Regions from separate parts of the Homo sapiens genome. Here region 1 is linked to region 2. The links come from fine-mapping of genetic effects on gene expression. A gene starts in region 2. The other region holds a variant in brackets. All regions are shown on one strand. Distances are between the middles of the regions.

What was found.
Region 1: its variant is fine-mapped to the expression of PTCH1 in naive CD4 T cells (Schmiedel 2018, PIP 0.95).

The regions. Positions count from the first base shown.
Region 1 is chr9:95,362,504-95,373,190 of GRCh38, forward strand. LOC105376155 (a long non-coding RNA gene) reads right to left here and starts at 4,602. Exons shown (of 2, transcript XR_930133.3): 1 at 4,362-4,602. RefSeq lists a silencer at 4,304-4,598. The variant C/CAAAA (reference allele first, on the strand shown) is at 5,804.
Region 2 is chr9:95,504,139-95,514,825 of GRCh38, forward strand. PTCH1 (patched 1) reads right to left here and starts at 5,128. Exons shown (of 24, transcript NM_000264.5): 1 at 4,023-5,128; 2 at 2,269-2,461. The coding sequence starts at 4,223. RefSeq lists silencers at 1,974-2,033, 2,464-2,703, 3,234-3,283, 4,064-4,383, 6,658-7,097 and 2 more and enhancers at 2,809-3,442, 5,028-5,577, 6,531-7,294, 7,295-8,056, 7,922-8,894.

The DNA.
Region 1 (10,687 bases), 140 kb before region 2:
GGGTGCGGTGGCTCATGCCTACTTTGGGAGGCTGAGGTGGGTGAATCACGAGGTCAGGAGTTTGAGACCAGCCTGGCCAACATGGCGAAACTCCTGTCTCTACTAAAAATACAAAAAATTAGCTGGGCATAGTGGTGGGTGCCTGTAATCCCAGCTACTTGGGAGGCTGAGGCGGGACAATCGCTTGAACCCAGGAGACAGAGGTTGCAGTGAGCTGAGATCGCGCCACTGCACTCCAGCCTGGGTGACAGAGTGAGACTCCCTCTTCATAAAAAAAAGAGTGTCTTTCTATTTATCTAGGTTCTCTTAAATGAGTCTGATGATAAATGCCATATGTATGTAGCATACGTTGTTAACTGTTTATTCATTTTTGCATCCTCTAGAAGGAAATGGCTTGCTTACGTCTATATAGCACCCTATGGAAGGACGGAAAGCAAACAGTAATTGACAAATCCAGCCATGAATGCAATAAATTCAACTCCAAGGTAAGCTGAGAGACTTAGACACTTCTTTTTGTAAAGTTCTGAAATAAAAGCCCACACTCCCTAAATCTAGAAAATGATACGCCTTTCTGAGCAATCTGAAGACCGTGTGAACGCACCAGAGCACCTTTCCCCGATGTGTGCTCTTGCAGAACCACAGTGGGCTCTGCGTCTACTGGCCAGGTTGGTTCATCGATGTGGACATGGCCAGGTGAACTTGACGCCCTGTCATTTTCACTGTCACTCACCAAAGGAACATTTGTGTTCAGGGCAGGTGTTCAGGAAGTGCTGGCTGGTTTAGGATTGCAAGGAACTTGCAGCGTTCTCTCTGTTTGTGGGGGTGATCACACTAGGAAGAGTTCACATTCTTTTTTAACCGGGGCTGGCCCTGCATTCCAAATGGAACACAGCCAAGCTCTGGACAACAACAGATGGCTCCGTCTCTGCAAAATGCAAACTTGATCCTGCTCGGAGAATTTATCTTCTGCTAAAATAGTACCCCAAGCAGTAAATAAAGCAAATATTCTGTAGGATTCCTATGTGGGGGGTGCACAGAAAGTTTCTCTGTCAAAGTTGACATTTCAAAAACGTATCTGGACTGGATAAGACACATAGCTGTTGGGTTATTCAGCCCCAGTAATGGATGTACTGTGCTTCAGGGAGACTTTCTAAATGTAACCATGTTAATGGAGCTCATAACTTTACTAGTAGATTAATGAGGATCTGAAAGATAGGGTAAGTCTGATCTGTTACTGGATAATGTGGTGATTAATGTTTGTGATGTAATAAGGAAGCCCTAATTAGAAAACTACAGGGGGAAAACCCCAACAGGCTTTTTCACTTAACCAAAGCTTCCACCATTGAAAGAAATTTTGAAGTGTCATTTAATAAGCTTTATGGACTCAGGATATAAAATCAGAGTAAAGCTTATTACATGTTGAATAGAGTCAGTAACATTACAATCCATTGAGACTTCATATCTTTTCTTATGAAAATTCTTAAATCAGAACAAGTTACTACGAAAATATGATTTGTAGTTATAATAATAAATGGGGCTATGTTTGTGTTCTTTCAATGATATTTTACCTTTTGTTCTTTTAAGAGTATGAGAAACATACACCACCATTTTCAAGAGGACACTAACCTATGATCCAATTTTTCACTCTGCTTAAAACTTTCAATAAATTCATTCAAAGTGCTAATAGGCAAAAACAAAGATTCCCGTTTTTTAAAGTGAATTTTATAACCCTTTTCTTTGAAAAACATTTTGGAATGCCTGATCTTAGTAATAGTTTTCCTTCCCTATATACATAGAATATTTACCTCAAATTACTCTTTTATACTGGAAGAAAATTCTGGAAATAAAAAACTAAAAAAACCTTTAAACTACCTTGCACACATATATACATTGTAAGAGATTTTTCTACATTGGAAATTTATGTATGAAATATGATACAGTCTTTTAAATAATATTGGTGAAATACTTTTTTTGCATCATATTTAGCAGTTTTAGAGGTTAATGACAAGCCGAAGGGATCAGTGACCAAGGCTTTGTCAGCACTGTTAACTTCAACCCATCACTAATTGCTGGAAATGTCTTGGGTCTAGGAGGTTAACTCTTGTACAAGATTAAGGAGAAGGAAACATAAACTCTTACTACTATCTTTATGGGCTGTGTCCTTTAATTTGGAAGGTACAGGGCAATTATCGTTTTGGCCAATAATTAGCTGATCTGCAGACTTGCCTTTCATATGGCTTAAACCATCATTCAGCTCTTTGCCCAACAGTTTTACAATTAAAGATTTTATATTTAAAAGGGAAATACTTTTAAATATTCTATTATATTTAGTAGTAGATAGTAGATAGTCTATTATTTCTATCTACTTTAGTAACTTATGATTTTTATATCCCTTCCCAGAGATGGTTTCATATTTTTTCCTAGAATCTTTATGTGGGGGCTTTTATCTCTTAGAAAAGTCTATTCATTTGTCTATAAGACCACTGGGGTACTCAAAGTGATCTAGGACAAAACAAAGTCTTCCTAAAGTGCAGCAATTTAAGCAAACAACCTTATTTGTCAGGTGCAAGAAAATGCCCTCTGAATCCTCCAATTTCACACTTGTCACCGAGGGCTTTGTATTGGGCAGGGAAAACATCTTAGGTATCTCTGTGGTGTCCATTTTTGTTTTAGCACATAGTAGGCCCTGAACGTGCATATATCAATTTACTGCATAAATGTGAACCAAGTCTCCTTATGGGTATCTTTAATTACAGAAACACTTCTTATTTTTCAAATAATCATGCTATATCAACACAGCTGTTCACAACAGTAATGCTCATAACATATTAATAAGTGAAACAAGAAAGGATGTAAATTATCCATTTTTTAAAAAAAGAAAATATTCTTAAATTATTTGAATTATTAAATAAAGCCACACAACTACAAAGTTGACTTATGCAATTAGGTGTCTCTCTTTTTGAAAAAAACTCCAGGTTCTTTAAAGAGCAGACGAGTTGGGAAGCTTTAGGAAACAAAGCAAAAATCCTCAAAGCAGTCTACTTAGTCTTGCCTTACATCAATCACCCTTTCTTATTAACCTCTCACCCTTAAACCGTGCTGCAAGGAGGTGGGGGCAAGTATGTAGTGGGCTGGGGGTGAGGACAGAGTGATAAAATGTAAATTATGTAGAAGAGGGCTGCAGCTTTAACAAGTGTTTCTGTTTATTCAGAGCCTTCCTCTGAGATGCTCCAAGTGTTTTATAAACGTTATCTCCTTAATCCTCTGGAACAAGTAGGTGGCAACTCTGGCTCTTTACTTGACAGATATTTTATCTATGATTGGAAAAATTAAATGCCAGCAGAAGATCTTAACAGAAAGCAATTGGATGATGACAAAGATTAATTTTAATGCATGCCCTCAAGAACAATTCCAAGCCGTCTACACACTCCCCTCTTGTTTTTCAGCCACATGTTTTAGCCTCTTCCAGCATGCAGCGTGCTCACGTGGTAGGATTCTCAAGAAACCGGTAACAGAGTTGCTTTGAGAGAGGGAAATTTGGCAGTTGGAGGGAGGGACTGAAGGAAAAGGAGACTTTTCACTGTCTATATATATGCTTATATACCTTTTGGATTTACCTATTTAAAAAATAAATTTAAAAACCCTCCCAGAACAAGAGGGCAAAGTCAGCTGGATGATCTACTCACTTCCCTGACGTCCCCTCCAGTCCCCAGGAAACAGTAGCTGGGCTTTAATCTAACTCTTTCTTTGTAATATTCTGAATAGAAATCATTGAAGAAAAATGAGTACACAATTTACAGTCCATATTAAATGTATAACTTGAGGGATTTAATGGAAATGAGAAATGCAGTGTGTTGAAAGGCTCTCTGGATCTTTCTTCCTCTCTGTGGATTTATATATTTACAGATGTTCCTTAACTTACGATGGGGTTAAAGTCATAAAGTCAAAAAATTTTAAAGTCAAAAGAAATCCCAAGTTGAATCGTAAGTCGGGGGCTTTATATACTGCACTTCATTCATCTGGGTGGCTGATAGCATCAAAGAAATTTCAGGTCTATTTACAAACCACCAAAAGTTTTTAAAAGTTTTAAGAAACTTTTAAAAGGAGGTAATTTTCCACTTTTTCCTGATTTCACCCGGTCTTCAACTTCTTATCAATGTTGGTCTTGATTGAATGAAATGGATGTAGGAGTCTTAGGCTGACTAATCATGAAATATACAATTTTAGGGAGAAAAGAAAAGAACTAAATCAGGGTAATTGGTGGTGGTGGGGTGAGAAGCAGACTTGACGACTGTATATACAATTTTGCACCCACCTCCCACGGTTTGACGTTCGTTCCAGTAAATTCCAAGAGTACTTACTATTGTTGCCAGACAGGCCGTGTCTTCAAGCACAGGGTGAAGGAATCCAGGGCACTTTCCCTCTCAGCTTCTGTGGGCTCCAGAGCTGTGGTGACTCCGAAGGGCATACAGAGCAATTCCCTGGGGATCTTGTTAAAATGCAGATTCTGGTTCAGGTCTGTGGGGGGCCCTGGATTCTGCATTTCCAACACATTCCCAGGGGCTGTCCCTGCTGCTCCCACAGGAGCACGCTTTAAGTAGTGAGGATTTAGACAGAGCTTGCATCTGTTATAACTGGTTTCCGCTGCATTTAACTGACTACCAGCCTCCCACAATTAAAAGTTCCTCCCAGGCCAGGTGCAGTGGTTTATGCCTGTAATCCCAGCACTTTGGGAGGCCAAGGCAGGAGGATCACATGAAGTCAAGAGTTTGTGACCAGCCTGACCAACATGGCTAAGCCCTGTCTACAAAAATACAAGAATTAGCCAGGTGTGGTGGCATGCGCCTGTACTCCCAGTACTTTAGGAGGCCGAGGCAGGTGGATCACTGGAGGTCAGGAGTTTGAGACTAGCCTGGCCAACATGCTGAAATCCTGTCTCTACTAAAAATACAAAAATTAGCTGGGAGTGATGGCGGGCGCCTGTAATCCCAGCTACTCAGGAGACTGAGGTAGGAGAATGGCTTGGACCCAGGAAGCAGAGGTTGCAGTGAGCCGAGATCACACCATCGCACTCCAGCCTGGGTGACAGAGCGAGACTCTGCCTTAAATAAATAAATAAATAAAGTTTCTCCGTTTTCATGAATCTAGAAATCTGAAGCTTGGCAGACAGGGAAGAAGGAGTCTTTTCCACAGTGTCTCAGGGATGGTGGAGCTGTCCACTTTTCCTTGCAGATTTATCCACTTTTCTTTGCTTCGTCATCTTTTTTGAGTGATTTTCATTGTCAAGGTCACAATATAGTGGCTGCCCTTCCAGGTATCACGTTCATTTTCCATGAGGATGAAGAGGTCATGAGAGAGAACAAAAGGTATATGCCAAGTGAGTCTCCATCTTTTAATTGGGAAAACAGCAGCCTTCTGGGAAGCCAGACTCCTACTTCTCATTGGCCAGCAGACGTCTACTAACATCTCATCAGCCACATGACTGCAGGAAGCTTCAAGGCAGCTTTGTAAATAAAAATTCTTGGCTGGGCACGGTGGCTTACGCCTGTAATCCCAGCACTTTGGGAGGCCGAGGTGGGCGGATCACAAGGTCAGGAGATCGAGACTGTGCTGGGTAACACGATGAAACCCCGTCTCTACTGAAAATACAAAAAATTAGCCGGGCGTGGTGGCAGGTGCCTGTAGTCCCAGCTACTCGGGAGGCTGAGGCAGGAGAATGGCGTGAACCTGGGAGGCGGAGCTTGCAGTGAGCCGAGATCGCGCCACTGCACTCCAGCCTGCGCGACAGAGCGAGACCCCGCCT[C/CAAAA]AAAAAAAAAAAAAAAAAAAAAAATTCTTTAGCCAAGCATATTGTCACCCTGAACAAAATAATGATTCTGTTAGAAGGAAGGGAAGAATAGACATTAGGTAGGTGTCATAGGTGGAATAATGGCCCCCCAATGATGTTCATGACTAAATCACTGGAACCTGTGATTATGTTATCTTCCACAGCAAAGGCAACTTTACAGATGTGATTAGACGGGAGGATTCTCCTGGGTTACCTGGAGGGCCCACTGTAATCACAAGGCCCCTCACTAGAGGGAGGTGGGCGGGTGAGCGTCTGAGGGGAGATGCGCTCTTAGAAGCAGAGGGCAGAATGGTGTGGGGCTGCGAGCCCAGGAGAGCAGGCGGCATCTAGAGGTGGGGACACAGCTCTCTGGACACTTTTTATTTTAGGTCCACAAGATCCTTTTTGGAATTCTGACTTTCTTTCAGAGCTTTAAAGTAAGTTTGTGTTCTTAAGCCGCTGTGTGGTAATTTGCAATACGAAACTCATGCAGTGCCGCCTGGCGTTGTCTGTCCCAGAGTTAGGAGGAGGTGTGAGGAGACAGGGAGAAGTACCAGGACACCAGCCCTGGGCAGGGCCCAATGCAGACGCACCAGCAGGTGGGCCGCCTCCCGGAGGGGGTAGTGGACGGCAGGAGAGGGGCACACAGCCCAGAGGCGGCAATTGTCTGAACTGTGAACATTCGCTAATTAGGCTGGTTGTTTTATTCGTATTGGCAAAAGGCTTTTTCTTAGATAGGCTCACGGACTGCGAGGGAGCCTCAGTGATCACCCAGGCCAGACAGCTCCTCAGATTTCCCTGGAGGGACTGGAGGCCTGAATCTGAAGAGACTCCCCAGGCGAGACAGTGGGACCTCCCGAAGCTGTTTCAGTGCTTCCCACCACTGCCGGCTGCTTCCTGCTCTGGCGTTCTAGGTCGGGCTGCCAGGACAAATACAGGATGCCCCAAGTAAATGTGATTTTCAGATAAACAACAAATAACTTTTTCAGTATAAGCATTATCTGAGTTTCTTATTGGTTCCGTAACAAATTACAGTGGTGTAAAGCAACACAAATTAATCTAACACTGCTGCAGGTAGCTAGCCCCGGGGTCTCCTGGGGCTCAAATCAGTGTCTAGGAGGGCCATGCTCCTTCCGAAGACTTCAAGGAGAGTCCGTTTCTTTGCCTATTCCCACACTTCTAGAAGACGACTGCATCCTTCAGCTGGTTGGTCCTTCCTCCACCTTCAATTTCTAACTCTGGCTCTCCTGCCTCCCTCCTCTAAGGACTCTGTGGTTACATTTGGACCAGTCACTTCACCCAGGACGACCTGCCCTCTGAAAAGCCTTAACTTAATCACATCCGCAAAATCCTTTTTGCCATGTAAGGGAATATGTTCCAAGTGTTAGGAATATCTGTCCATGGACATCTTTGTTGGCCCCTTTTCTACCTGCCACAAGTGTGTCCTAAATATTGCATGGGACATACTTACACTAAAAAATTATTCATTGTTTTTCTGAAATTCACATTTAACTGGGGATACCATATTTTTATTTGCTAAATGTGGCAATCCTCATTTTTGGAAGTGTAGATAGGGTGTATTCTCTTCTCTATGGCAATTACTCCACCTACAACTTTATCAGTAAACAAAAAAATTGGATTTGGACAGGTGAGCGTCTATTGAAATAAATGCCTTCCTTTTTAGAAAAATTTATATTAATTAGCTTTTTAATATTCTGAACTATATTTTTAGTGAGCAATTTCTATTTAATTAATCTTCAACAGGGAACATAAGAGTAACTGAACACATTACAGCAGTCAGACAGAAAGTACACCAAGTATTTATTTGAAATATTTTGAATTTCTCCACACACCACATGGTCCAGTTCTCTCAACCAGCCCATTAATAAATCTGTTATCCAAAAATGTGGCTCTAAACGTGGCTTAGCGTGGTTGCACTTGATTACTGAGTGTCTGGAATGTCTTTCTCTCTTAACCAAAACACTTCAGGGGCAGAAGAGACACCAGGGAGTGGGACTCCCACAGCTTGGGCTGGGTTCAGAGCTGATGTCTCCCTCGCTAGCTGCTTTCTGAATAACGCCCTGGAGATGTCTCTGTGACACTGGGGCCTCCTCTTGCTGGGCTCTTTACTTCTGTAAACCTCTTCAAGTCTCTCTCTCTTTTTTTTTTTTAGATGGAGTCTCACTCTGTCGCCAGGCTGGAGTGCAGTGGCGCGATATCGGCTCACTGCAACCTCCGCCTCCCGGGTTCAAGTGATTCTCCTGCCTCAGCCTCCTGAGTAGCTGGGACTACAGGCACGTGCCACCACACTCAGCTAATTTTTGTATTTTTAGTAAAGACGAGGTTTCACCATGTTGGCCAGGGTGGTTTCAATCTCTTGACCTCGTGCTCCGCCCGCCTCGGCCTCCCAAAGTGCTGGGATTACAGCCGTGAGCCACCACGCCCAGCCCTCTCTTAATGACAATATTAAAACTGACTACAATTAGCAGTATTCACTGATATGCAAGTACTGTCATGCTTAAGTCCACTTTAAAAAACAAAACTGTCTTAAATAGATTGCTCTGGTGTTAGGAAAAATTATCCAAAACTTAGAAATAAAGCCAAGAGAATGACTGTCTTTTTAAGGCCATACTAAAGCGTTGTCTAACAAGCCTATCTAAAGATTATTTCATTCTCTAGGGATAGAAGGTTGTACTATTATTTTACTCTGCTTGTTATTTTAATTAAAGACTCAGACTCTATGCAAGTAAGTATTAACTTGTAGATTTGTGTGCAGTGGAAATACCAATTATTTCTCTCAGGTAGAAAACCCCAAAAGTTAGGCTTCCATCTCTTTTTGAAACACAACTAGCTACTTGTATGTCTGATCAAGTAATGTTATTCTGAATTCTTTTTTTTAGGTTTTCTTTATTGTTTCTTTTCTTTCTCCTTCCTTCCTTCCTTCTTTCCTTTCCTCCTTCCTTCCTTCTTTTTTAAGAGACAAGGCTTCACTGTCACCCAGGCTGGAATGCAGTGGTGTGATCATAACTCATTGCAGTCTCAAGTAATCAAGCCTCCTGGCCTCAAGTAATCCTCCTATTCAGCCTCCCAAAGTGTTTGGATTACAGGCATGAGCGGCCGTGCCCAGCTTTTTTTTTTTTTTTTTTTTTTTTTGAGACAGGGTCTCACTCTGTCGCCCAGGCTGGAGTGCAGTGGCACAATCTCAGCTCACTGCAACCTCCGACTCCTGGACTCAAATGATCCTCCCACCTCAGCCTCCCAAGTAGCTGGAACTACAGGTGTACGCCACCATGCTCGGCTAATTTTTAAATTTTTTTATAGGGACAGGATCTTTCCATGTTGCCTATGTTGGTCTCAAATTCCTGGGCTCCTCAGATGTTCTTAAAACCAGCTTTGAACTCTTACTGGATGCCTCGTTAATTAGTTGAATAAAATTTGATATGTACTCATCCTATAGTTGTATGACTCTCATACAACTAACTTGTTGAAAATGATGCTTTATCGGTAGCATAAGTCAGCCCGTCTGGTTTATGCTGTGGATTTGCTTTAACAACTTATTTCTTTTTAGATGAGCTAAAGGTTCAAGTTTCTTAGCATGACACTGAGGGTTCTTCACATTCTGGTCCCAAGTGACATCTTTTTTTTTGAGACAGGGTCTCCTGTCGCCCAGGTTGGAGTGCAGTGGTGCAATCTTGGCTCACTGCAACCTCGCCTCCTTGGTTCAAGCTATTCTTCTGCCTCAGCCTCCTGAGTAGCTGGGATTACAGGCACGCACCACCACAGCCTGGTTAATTTTTGTATTTTTATGTTTAGTAGAGATGGGTTTCACCATATTGGTCAGGCTGGTCTTGAACTTCTGACCTCAGGTGATTTGCCCTCCTCGGCCTCCCAAAGTGCTAGGATTACAGGCGTGAGCTACCGCGCCTGGCCTGACATCTCCTCTTCTGTGAAGTCTTCCCCAACCTCCTCTTTCCCAGTCTACACCACACCCTCCTCGGGCAGAGTCAGATATCTCCACATCCTTTGCACTCAGCATCCCAAACATATGTTTGCTGATAAACTGAACTATTTTCCTACTCTTCTGGTTGGCGTGTGACCTGGAGGTTAATTTAAATAATACATTCCATGTCCTCGTCACAGTGATTGCTTCCTGGGTGGGGGGGTCCTATGAGCCACCCTGTTTCCATCAGCGTCTTCTCAGGACATTTATTGCAATGGTGGGACAGAAGTACTCTTTCTTTCCTACTGATGTGGACAAAGCCTGTCACCTGGAATCTGGTGGCAGCTGTCTTTGGCTGGTGAGAGGAGCCACCCTCGGGACGGAGCCAGCACTGGGAAAGCAGCTCTGAGAACTGGGGAGAAATTCCGGCCGTGGTCATGTGGCTATGTTTCTGGAACAGGCCTTAAGATACTCTTGCTTCTAGACTTTTCAAGTCTTGGAGCCAGTAGATCCCTTTGATCACATAAGCCTGTTTGAATTAGATTTTCTATTATTTCCAGCCAGAAGCATCCTAGCTGATACAGATACCTATGTTACTCATTGGTGTCTTCATCAATGCTTCCGGAGTAATTTTGTGTCTGCCTAACTTCTGCCCATAGAAAAACATCTTTGTGATCCCAGAGCCTTGCTCAGTTTCTAGCTCAGTTGGAACTCAATAAATGTTGCCTGAGTTCGTTTTAGGAAAACACTTTTTTGCACTATACTCTTGTTATTTTTACAAGTAATGAAATAAAAACCTACTTTCCTCACCTTTTGCAGATCCCAGCGTCTCCCAAATTCCAAGGCTTGATTACTTTTTCTGACATCTGTGTCATCTCACCTGGAGCCACATGAATCTCTCAGTATCCCTACTCTCCTGCTTCAGC
Region 2 (10,687 bases):
TCAACAAGTGACAGTATTAGTACTGAGTAAATAACATTTGGCCCAAGACCAGTGAGTCATGCTGAAACTGCCAAAAGTAAGCAAAGTGAGTGTGCCCCTCAGAAGTGTCCTCATCCAGTCCATTGAAAAAGAAAAACTTTACTCCCTCTCACTACACAACTGGCAGCTCCCATAAAACTGCTAGGAAGCACACTGCATCTCCTTCCAGGACTTGAAATGGGTCGTGTTATGCAGAAAGCAAGTTATTTCCAGAAATATGCAATGTTAAGAAAATAAATCACATTCTATCTCCTTCAACATGTCAAAGGTCCACTGAAAACTCTTGCTAAGAACACCACAAAATCACGTTTTGTCATCCTCATCCGATGGCAACAAATACAGGTTGGATCAAGTGGTGGATGAGCCGGCCCTCCCTGTGCTCATGCCCTATTCTGTCCAAGAATCTACGGCAGCGGCCCTCCCTGTCCTCATGCCCTATTCTGTCCTAGAATCTACGGCAGCGCCCCTACAGTCTAGCCAATCACATCACTTCCAAACTCCTCAGCTGGGGCCCCTGCTGGTGTCCCGCCCATGCCTAAAATGCCCTCCTTCCCCTACCGTCTCCAGTTCTCTCCCCCCACCCCCTACCACCCTCTTGTAACTTTCACAGCCCATTTCAGCTGTGAACCCAAATGTAGTCCAAATGCATCGAATTCTAATAGTTTTAAATTGTGCAGTGTCGCACACACTTGAGTCTCTTATGGTGCTTAACACAGTGCTAGGGACATCATAGGTGCTCAAGAAACTTGTTGCTAGGAGCATAATAGCTGCTCGATAAAACCCTTCTTTTATCTACCAGTGATACTGAATCGCTGAACTGAGGTAAATTACTCCATGGATTCAATCCAAAGAACGCTTTTGTATTAATTACCAAACTACTTAAGGCAGGAATGTTTTGTCTTAATTATGTAGACTATTATTTTAATTGTCACTTCTCAACTAAATACTCCAACTCCACCCCAGGCTTGCAAAACTCTGCAAGCTGAATCTTCACAAACAAGGAGAGATTAAGGAAATATTCTTCAAGGTCTCCAACAGCATCCTGAAAGGGATCACTGAAGCGATTATGCGCATAACTCTTCAGCTTCCACATGCTGTCCGGAGGAATGCTCCAGGTATTTTGGTTTGAATTATCTACCTAGTCACCTCTACCCTCCCCTACTACCCTCTTGTAAGGTAAGGGATGCCCAAAGTGGTGTTTAGGGTTAAAGTGTTTCCAAATAGCAGGATTTGGAACTTGCCAAAAAGATAAATAAGAAACCAGCGGGGGAAAAAAATTGAAACCTTTGTCACCAAAATAATGTAAAAATGTTTGTCTTCGAAAAAATATATATCTATTTTAAATCTGCAACTGCTTTGCTAAGGTCTCAAGAACCCCAAAACTGAGGAACGTGGATAAAAGACTGGCAGAACCCCTCTGAGAGGTCCCTTCAACCCCGCGTTCTTAAAACATTTCTTTTCTTTGCCTGCAAAATGCAGCCTTCCCCCAGAATAATTCCATGTAAAAAGCCCCCACCCGCGAGGAAACATTAATCTACTTTGCAAACATGCGTTCCAGTCTGTGCCTTACTATTTTTTTTTCCACTCCTTCCACCCCCACCCCGCGTTTTTTGTACCTTGAGACAAATGTTTTTTTCCCTCAGAGTTGAAAGCTGTCCAAAAACAGGACCACACACGCCGCCGCCTCCGCAGCCCCGCGCTGCGCCCGCCCCCGGCCCTCCCCAGCGCGGCGGCCGCGGCCGCCGGGGGCGCGCACACTCCAGCCAGCCGGAGGGGTGGCCTCTGGCTCTCCCCGACTCCTTTTTCTTTGGACGCGGTGGGTGGGGGTGGGGGAGAGAAGAAAGCCGGGCCGCGGAGCGGGGCCGGGAGAGGCCAGCCCCGGGGCGCCTCTCGGGGCGCGGCCCAGGCGGACAGCGGCAGCGGCGGCGGGCCCGGGGCCCCCGGCGCGCAGAGTGGTCCGTCCCGGAGGGGCCCCGCGCCCCCGTCCCGCCCCCGCCGCTCTCTCCCACCACACCTCGGCCGGCGCAGCGCCCCGAGTAGATTACAGCGCGGCCTTTGTCGGGCGGGCCTGGCTCCCGGCCAGGCGCCCAAACAATAAACAATCCCCCGGGTGCGGGCAGGGGGTTTCGCCGGCCGCAGCCAGGCTCTAGGTGTGCGCTGGCGAATATCTCTATCAACCGCGAGGAGGGACCGGGCCGGGGGCGCGGGCGCCGCGGCGGGCGCTCTTACCTTCCACCCACAGCTCCTCCACGTTGGTCTCGAGGTTCGCTGCTTTTAATCCCACCGCGAAGGCCCCAAATATGAGGAGGCCCACAACCAAGAACTTGCCGCAGTTTTTTTGAATGTAACAACCCAGTTTAAATAAGAGTCTCTGAAACTTCGCTCTCAGCCACAGCGGCGCTTTCCGGCCAGTAGCCTTCCCCTGGGGACGAAGCAGAAGGGAGGAGTGAGCGCCGGGGAGTCGCGGCCCGCGCGCCCACGCCCGCTTGCGCGCACCCGCCCGGTGAGCCCCCAACAGCCGTGGGGGCGCGGGTGGCCGCGGCACACGGACTCGCCCTCGAGACTGCAGCCCCGGCGGATCTGAGCGTCATGGGGGGCTCGGTCATAAAGCCGGGCCGCAGCGTGGGAGCTGCACCTCGGGGACATCAGGGCGCCCCCACCCGCGGGATCCCTGAGCGACTTGGGGCACTGGGGCTGCAATACAGAAGAGGAAGCCGAGGTAGAGAGGAGAGAAACCACTCGACACAGACAATATTCACCCCAGAGCTGAGAAGGGAGGGGCTGCGTAATCCCAGCGATGGAGCCCAAGGTTCAGGAGCCAGCAAACCAGTCCTGCTCTGTCCATCACCCTCGGGGACGGGCGCTAGGGGCGAGCGCTCTTTGGAACAACATATTGCGGGTTCCCCCAACTGGACCCCCGCCGAGAATGGTAGTAAGTGGGGATCCACGTGGTGAGCGCGGCCGCCGGAGTTCACTCCCGACGCATTTCCATAGCGTGGGGAGAGGCTGTGTGAGCTGAATTAGGAAGTGGGGCAGCCAGCTGCAACTTACGACAATATTTGTGATCGGAAGAGGGCAGCCACATGGATCTTTCCCTCCTCTCCCTTCCTTTCTGGTTAAACGTAAAAAACAGCCGAGTGCAAAGGGAAGGGCTCAGGCCGGCGCAGGCTGCTCCCCGGCGCGGCATTTCCCCGGCGCTGGCCGCGGCCCCGGCGGGCCCCCGTCTGGGTGCTCGCCTTCCCTGGATTCCACACATTTCAGCGAGCCTCGTAAACACAATGAACCCGGCAGCTCCGCAGACTCGCACCGCGAATTTAAGGTGGCAATTTGTTTACAACTTTTCCTCCCCCGACCAGGCCCTAAGGAGAGGCGGCTCAAAACCTGGAAAACGGGGGGGATATCTTTTTCCGAGAATAATTTTTTAAGGGAGCAGAGATTTCATGCTCAACAAAACCAAAACTGGCTGCCAAAAAAGGAAACCACCTTTATTTCGGCTCCCTCCCCCCTTCCTCTCTCCGCCTCTCTCCACTCCGCCTCCCCCTCCAAGATGTTAAGAAATGTGGCAGCCGTACAGGAGTTTAGGCTGCAAATAGGGGCAGGGGCGCAGGAGGAAGAAGTTCAGGGCAGGGGGCACGGGGCAGGACAGTGCCGCGGCCGCCCTTGAGGTGGTCCGCCGTGGACGGCTTTCCAGTGCTCCGGAAAAGGCACACCAGGGAGGGCGTGTGTATACACACACACACACGCACACACACACACCTCCACCCCCTGCGGACCTCAGACAGCCCTTTCCTCCCAGGACCAGAGGGAGGGTTTGAATTTTTCAATCCCCATTTGTCTGCTGCTTTTCCTGGAGAGGTGTGAGTGAGTGTGTGTGTGTGTGTGAGAGAGAGAGGAAGAGAGTGTGTGTGTTTGTGTGTGGCGGGGGCGATCCCAAAGAGTTAGAGGAGGGAAGAGAAAGTGGGAGGAGAGAGTCTGAAATGCACCTTGGAAATCTGCTCCAGAGCGAAGGCGGCGTCGCAGTAGCTGGGCCGGTGCAGATAGTCCCGGTCCGGCGCGGCAGCACGGCGCAGCCCCCCCGTCCGTCTGCGCCTCCCGCCTCCAGCCGGCCGTCCCGGGGCACCGATACAGCCGCTGCCGCCGCCGCCGCGGTCCTGGGGCTCGGCGGCGTTACCAGCCGAGGCCATGTTGCCGCCGCCGCCGCCGCCGCCGCGGGGACGGAGGCTTCCCGGGCGGCCCGGCGCGCTGCTGCCGCTGCTGCGGGCTCCTGGCGCGCCTGGGCGCTCGGCTTGCGAGGACGCTGCTGGCCGCAGGCTGCTCGGGCTCGGGCTCCGGTTGACAGACCAGCCGCTGCTGCTGCTCACACGGCGGGCGCTGCTGCCGCTGCGGCCGCGGCCGCTGCCGGGGAGTCAGACCCTGCGCCTTCCATTGCCACATTGCGCGGGGGTCCCGAGGTCTCTGCGGCCGCCGCTGCCCACATCCAGTTCGCGGAAGAGCGAGAGCCGGCGCGCCGAGCGAGCCTGTCCTTCGGGCGCTTCCGCGGCACTCCTTGCGGTCCCCAACTCCCCCTACCCGCCCCCCGCCCCGCGCCGCGACCCCTTCACTGCAGAAAGAGCCAGCGAATCCCCGCTGCTCCCGCCGGCCGCGCTGGCTCTCTCGGCGCCTCCCGGGTCGCCCGAGCGGCCGCGGAGGGCAAGCGCAGAGCCGCCGCCGCCGCGGGGTCCGAGGGTGCCCGGCGGGTCTCAGCGCTGCCGGGCCCGGGCAGCCGCAGCTGCCGCTGCTCCCGCGGTGGCTGCTGCTGGCGGTGGCGGCTCCAGGAGCTGCTGCTCGGGCTGCTCGGGCTCTGGCTGCTGGGTTCGCGGTGGCTGCTCGGTCCCGGACTCTGCTTTCTTGTGCTCCTCGGCAACCCGCTGGACCATTCTGTCCCCGTGCAGCGCGCCTCTCTCGCTCCCGGGACCTGGGGACTCCGCTCTGTGTGTGTGCAGCGGGCAGCGGCCGCAGCAGCTCCTTGATTCAATAGATGAGATGGAAGAAGAAAAAAAAGAACTCTCTCCATTTGGAGAAAGAAGAGGAGGAGGGGAGGGGAGGGGGTGGAGGGGGAGAGAGCGAGCGAAAGAGAAAAAGGCTGGAGCTCCCGCCCCCGGGGCTGTCAGATGGCTTGGGTTTCTGCGACGCGATTGGCTCGCGGAGGGCAGAAATTACTCAGCAAACATGACTATTATTAGCTGCTTAGCAACAGCTCACCAAAGTAGAGAGACCACCCAGGTAGGCAACCCAGTGTGTGCATCCTCGGCTTCGGGGCAGCCTCTGAGAGCGCCAACCTTCTCGCATGCAATACTTCCATTAAGGAATGCTCCCCCTCCTTTCTCTCTTATTCCTTTTCTTTTCAACAGTGTCTTCTTTTTGTGGGATGCCTTTGCGCGCACACACGCGCGCGCACGCACACACACGAACATTTGCCTCGCGGTAGACACGGGGGGAAATGTAATATTTTTTTAAGCGCTTAAACAATTTCTGAAATTCCTCAAAGAAAAGCCTTTCAGAGGCACCTTGGCCTCAAGCTGCAGCAAATACTGGGAGGTCCGGCTCGCATTCCCAGGCCTGCACCAATAATGACAGCGTGCTGGATAGTGCGCCAGTGTGTGCCAGATTTTTTTTTCCTCTTCTCTTTTCTTTTATAACTAAAGGGAAGACTTAGGCTCTTGCAGGGAACAACGCCTCGCATTAAGATAAACAGAATGGAAAGTTAAAGAGGAAAGCAAGGACGTTGGGAAAAGCCATCTTTCTTAAAATCCGTCTGCCCCCCAGCCGCTTTCTCCCCCCAACTTAAAAAAAAAAAAAACACAGTCTTGGTTTGAAGGAGTCAGTGTTCTATAAACGTGGAATCCAGACACCGAAGCAGTCTTGTAGAGGCAGAGGCGTTTTTATTTGAATCTCGAATGTGACATAAGTAAAAGAGAAACAACAGAATCTTTTTTTACAACTTAGAGAAACGGAATTGTTTCCTTGAGAGAGTAAAGTTTTCCTGATTATTTTGGGTTCATTTGTACACCCCTTTTTATTAACCAGATGTTTATATAGTCAGTATTTTTTTTTACAAAACTCGGTATGCATGTTATATTTAATAATAGTATGACGTAGGAGATTATAAATGCCCCGATGCTGGATTCATTGAAAACAAACTGTGCGCGGATCGCGAGGATTCGTCCCGACACCGCGTCCAGTGTCACCAAGGCATCCCGGGGATTCGCTTCCCGCGGAGGGGGAAAACACGCGACCCTTTGAGGTGGATTCTGGAGCCAGACACGTCTACACAACTAGGCTTTTTATTTAAAAAAATTTTTGTTTTCGGAAAGTGGAATGTGTTTTTCTTACGTTTCCAAGTTATTACGTTCCTCCCTGCGGTAGGAACCCGACCCGCAAACCCTTGATTTGCTTCACTTTATTTTTTTTTTTAAACGGGGTTGAACTGCAGAGGGACTGGCAGTAGCGAGAAGTCTAGTGAAGTCGTGAAATGGGGCGGTGTGGCTTTAAGATGCGCACGGTGTATGTTCATTGAAAAAAAAAGAAGAAAGAAAGGAAAGGAAAGAAAGAAACCCAGATGGAGGGAAAGGGGGAGGAGCAGGGAGAAGGCGGAGCTCCGGTGGCCACGTGACCCCGCGCCAGGAGGCCCGGTGCGCGCGCGCGCCCGGCTCCCGGACTCCCCGCGCCCGCGCGGCCGGGGCAGAGTAGGTAGGGAGGCGGATGCGCCGGGCCGGCTCCGGGCCTCCAGCGCGGTCTCCCGAGAGCCCAGGCGAGGCGCGCGCCCAGCCGGCGCGGACGGACGTGCCGGACGCGCCGTAGTACATTCCTGAAGGCGGACCGGCCCCCTTACGCTGCCCAATGCCCGCGCCGCCTCCCCGCGACCGGCCAATGGTCGCGCTCACGAGTCCCTGCCCATTCAGCGGCCCCGCGCTGGCTGCCCGGGCGCGCTGGGGGCTGCGGCGGGGCGCGCCGGCCACCGGGGCGGTCCACGCGGCTCCCGCAGGGGGCCCGTCCGCCGGCTCTCCCCGCCCCCTTCCTTCCTCCCCGGCGGTTTCCCCTCCCCGCTTCCTTCCTTCGGCCTGCGCCTTCTCCTTCCTCCCTCGCCCCGCTCCCTCCCTCAATCTCCCCTCCCCCACCAGCCTGGCCACCTTCCCTCCAGCCTCTCCTCCTCCCCGGCTTCAGGGGGAGGCCCTTCCCCCGACCCCCTAACCCGCAAACCGTATGCGGTGCCGGGGTCAGGGCGGGATGTCCCGAGGAAGAGAGGGAGACGGGGTGGAGGTGTTTGGGGGCGTTCGCGGGATCCGGAGGGGGACCTGAGCACCGGGCCAGCGCGGAAATTCAAAACTCAGACCGCTTAAGGAGCACGTGATTTTGTGAGTGCCTCAGGGAAGGGCTGCGGAAACTCGGAAAGCAGGCGGGCAGCATGCGAGGAAAATGACACTGAGTTGATAAAGAGCTCAGACGGCTCCACACATTGCCAGTTTCATCTTTGAGTACGATCCTGATGTTTATTAGGTTTGATAAATAGCACAAAACAGGAAAAGAGGTTTACTATTCTAGCTTTTCTTACTGAATGGTTATGCCGACACTTCAAGTCGAACCATTGTGTGTTTGCTTCTGGAAATTGCTTTTTAAAAACTGGGGGAGGGGGGTAGTACCCCTAGTTTTGCATGTTAGCCTTTTTATATTTCAAGCTTGCTGGAGGGCAAGGAACCATATAGCCAAAGACACGTTGCTATGTTTGTCTTTTCAAACTTCTCCACCACGTTTTGGCCCAAAACTATTAGTGTTTCGTCTCAATCTTTTACTAGAGGGATTTCAGTATAGCTTGTTTGGAAGAAGGAATTCTGGAAGGAAATGGTAAGCTGTGTGCCCGTAATGGATCCGCCTCACTCTCCGCACGCGGCTGCATGTCCTCTGGTTCCGGCGGCTGCCACATGCACGTCATTTCAGTGGCAAAGCCTCTTCCACTCAGGCCCATATCCCTTAGTTTGACTTAATTCCTAAACGTTTTGAACATTGATCCCCGGAGCTTTCAGTGCCCTGAGCCCCCTCGCCCGCTGTTTGATGGGTTAACTTTTCAGCATCTCAGACAATGGTCCCGGCCTGTAAATTCTACCCGTGGGTTCCAGGACGCACTCCGGAGCCTCGGCTCTAACGAGCGCTATCTTAATCTCCCCACCCCCCACCCGCCGCTTCCCCTGTGGTCTGCTTTTTTCATACTTAGAGATGAATTACTTTGAGGATCTAATTGGCCTTGTTTCTGTAACGTTTTAAGAAAGGGAAGAGGAGCCAGTGTAAAAGCCTGCTCGACTTGGGTGGTCAGGGCTGAGGCTGCCCCCAATTTGCCTCATTGCTGATGCATGCGAGTGCGACATTCCCAGCGATAATGTTGTTCCTAATCAATCTGCCCTTATTTACATTTGTAAGCATTGTCGGCTTTAATATGCATGCCCTGTGCAGGGGACTGCTGTGCCACACCGGGTTTGTTAACTTCAACTAACCACAAGGATTCCACAGATCTGAGATGCAGACTGGGGCAGCCAGACCTGCTAAGGTGTCCTCCGGGAAGACAGTCCCTTTAAATGGCCCTTCTGCCTCTGGCACCCCTTGTGACAGTTACCAAATAAAAATAAGTGAGAACTTGGGGCCTTATCAGCCAGCAGGAGTTGCCAGCCTTTATGAAGCAACAGCTGAGTGTTCCATTTCCCCTTTCCAAGTAAAGTTCATCTCAATGCATAAATTGTCATTTTGGTCTCCCAGTCATGATCCAAGACTTCTCATTGGAGTGTGTAGTTTTCAAAGCAGATGCCTTAAGCTCTCCGGATTCCCTCACATCTCCTCCCTTCTCTGTTCCAATACTACAAATATCCATGGCCACACCACACACATTTCAAAAATGACATCAGATTATCCAAATGATGACAATGAAATAAAACATCTGCCCTTTGTGTTGGGATGTTCCAATGGTAAGCAATTGTGGAAGCCAGACTTGGTGGAGTTATGAAAAACCACAGTGAGATTTAACTTTTCACTGGTTTCTCAGATCAAACCAAATGAGTCTTTAAAATCCAATGTAATTTGGCAAGTTTTGCAGAGTATAAATGAATAAAGGGGTTAATGTATTCCAGTAATTTGACCCTGGGGCCATTTATAATTTTGTCTACTGAGTTTAATACTCTTCCAGAAATACAAGGAATTGCAAACATGATTTTAAGTCCTACAGTATTTTTGTTGAGAGGGTCGGATGGAGAGAGGAATTGGGGATTTGATGCAATATTCTTTTACTGCATGGGGAGCCCAGGATACAGGATGTGAGTGATGGTCAAGGCAGGGCTTCAGCAGTTCCAAGCAGGTACCTTGAATATGAGTTGAGTCGACTCAACTCAAGCCAATGTGCCACCATCCACCACATTTTCTTGGCTCCCTAAGAATGCCTTACTATTTTCTCATTGGCAGCTTTTGTATATTCTTAAAAGGTGATGGTAGAAAATGAGTCTAAAAGGTTTCAGGGAAGTCGGGGACGGGGTGGGGGGAGATTCAGCAGCTACAAAATTTAAAACTACTGGGCTTGACTCCCCTCCCCTACTCCCTTCCACCTTCTGTTTCCTCCCCTTATTTACCCCCTCCCCAGGCTGGAGGAAAGGGAACAGCTCTAGCCAACTTGTCAAAATAATGCTGCTAATTACCCCTGATCTCCTTTAATGGGAAGCTGCTCCTAACTCCACAAAGGAGTAAATGAGGGGTCTACAGCACAAACCCGGGAGCACTGGCATTTTTTGAGCTTACAGTGAGCTGGGGGTGGGGAAAGCGGCAGAGGGGAGTGTCCTGAGAAGGTCCCAGAAATCTCCACATTGATTACTCCAGGTCTAAATACTAGCTTGAAAGGGGAATTAGACTTTATGTATTGCCAAAAGCTATTGGTATTCTCTTGCTAAGCATGTCACCAACTGCTGAATGTTCAGAGCCTACTATGAACTTGAAAGAAAACAGAGCATTGACCCCTGCATTGATCCCTCTCTCTCCAAATATATTCTTACCCACATTGCTTTCCTCTCATGGATAGAGATGTATTCCTACAACACCCAGACTTTGAACATGTTTTGCATCCTTCCCTCTCCTCGCCTCTCCCTGTCTAATATATCTCTATCAAGCTTTGCGTTTGCTAGGAGGCACACCATTCATTTCAGTGATCTCTGCTATTGGGTCCTGCATGAAAAAGAAGCTGAGCAACATGATCCCTTTGACCCACTGCTGGAGCAACAAATTTATCAGAAATATAGGCATGAGAAATGAAAGGGAAGTAAAACAATTCCAGCTTATTGTGTGTCTTTCTTTCATACTGCTAATCCGGTTTACACATCACGCCTACACGTCTCAATAGGGCATTATACACTGTGGCAGAGGCTGGAGAAAATAAAAGGTGTGTGTGTGTGTGTGTGTGTGTGTGAGAGAGAGAGAGGAATGAGGATAAAAACGGGAGACATATTTTAATCCACATTGATTAACCTCATCAGTTTATCTATCTGTAGAAAGTTGAAGATAATTTTGTAAAACAGCCTTTTTCTTTTCAGAAAATAATTCCAAATGGTTCTAAGTTTTGTTCAAATAGCTTCAAAGATTATGA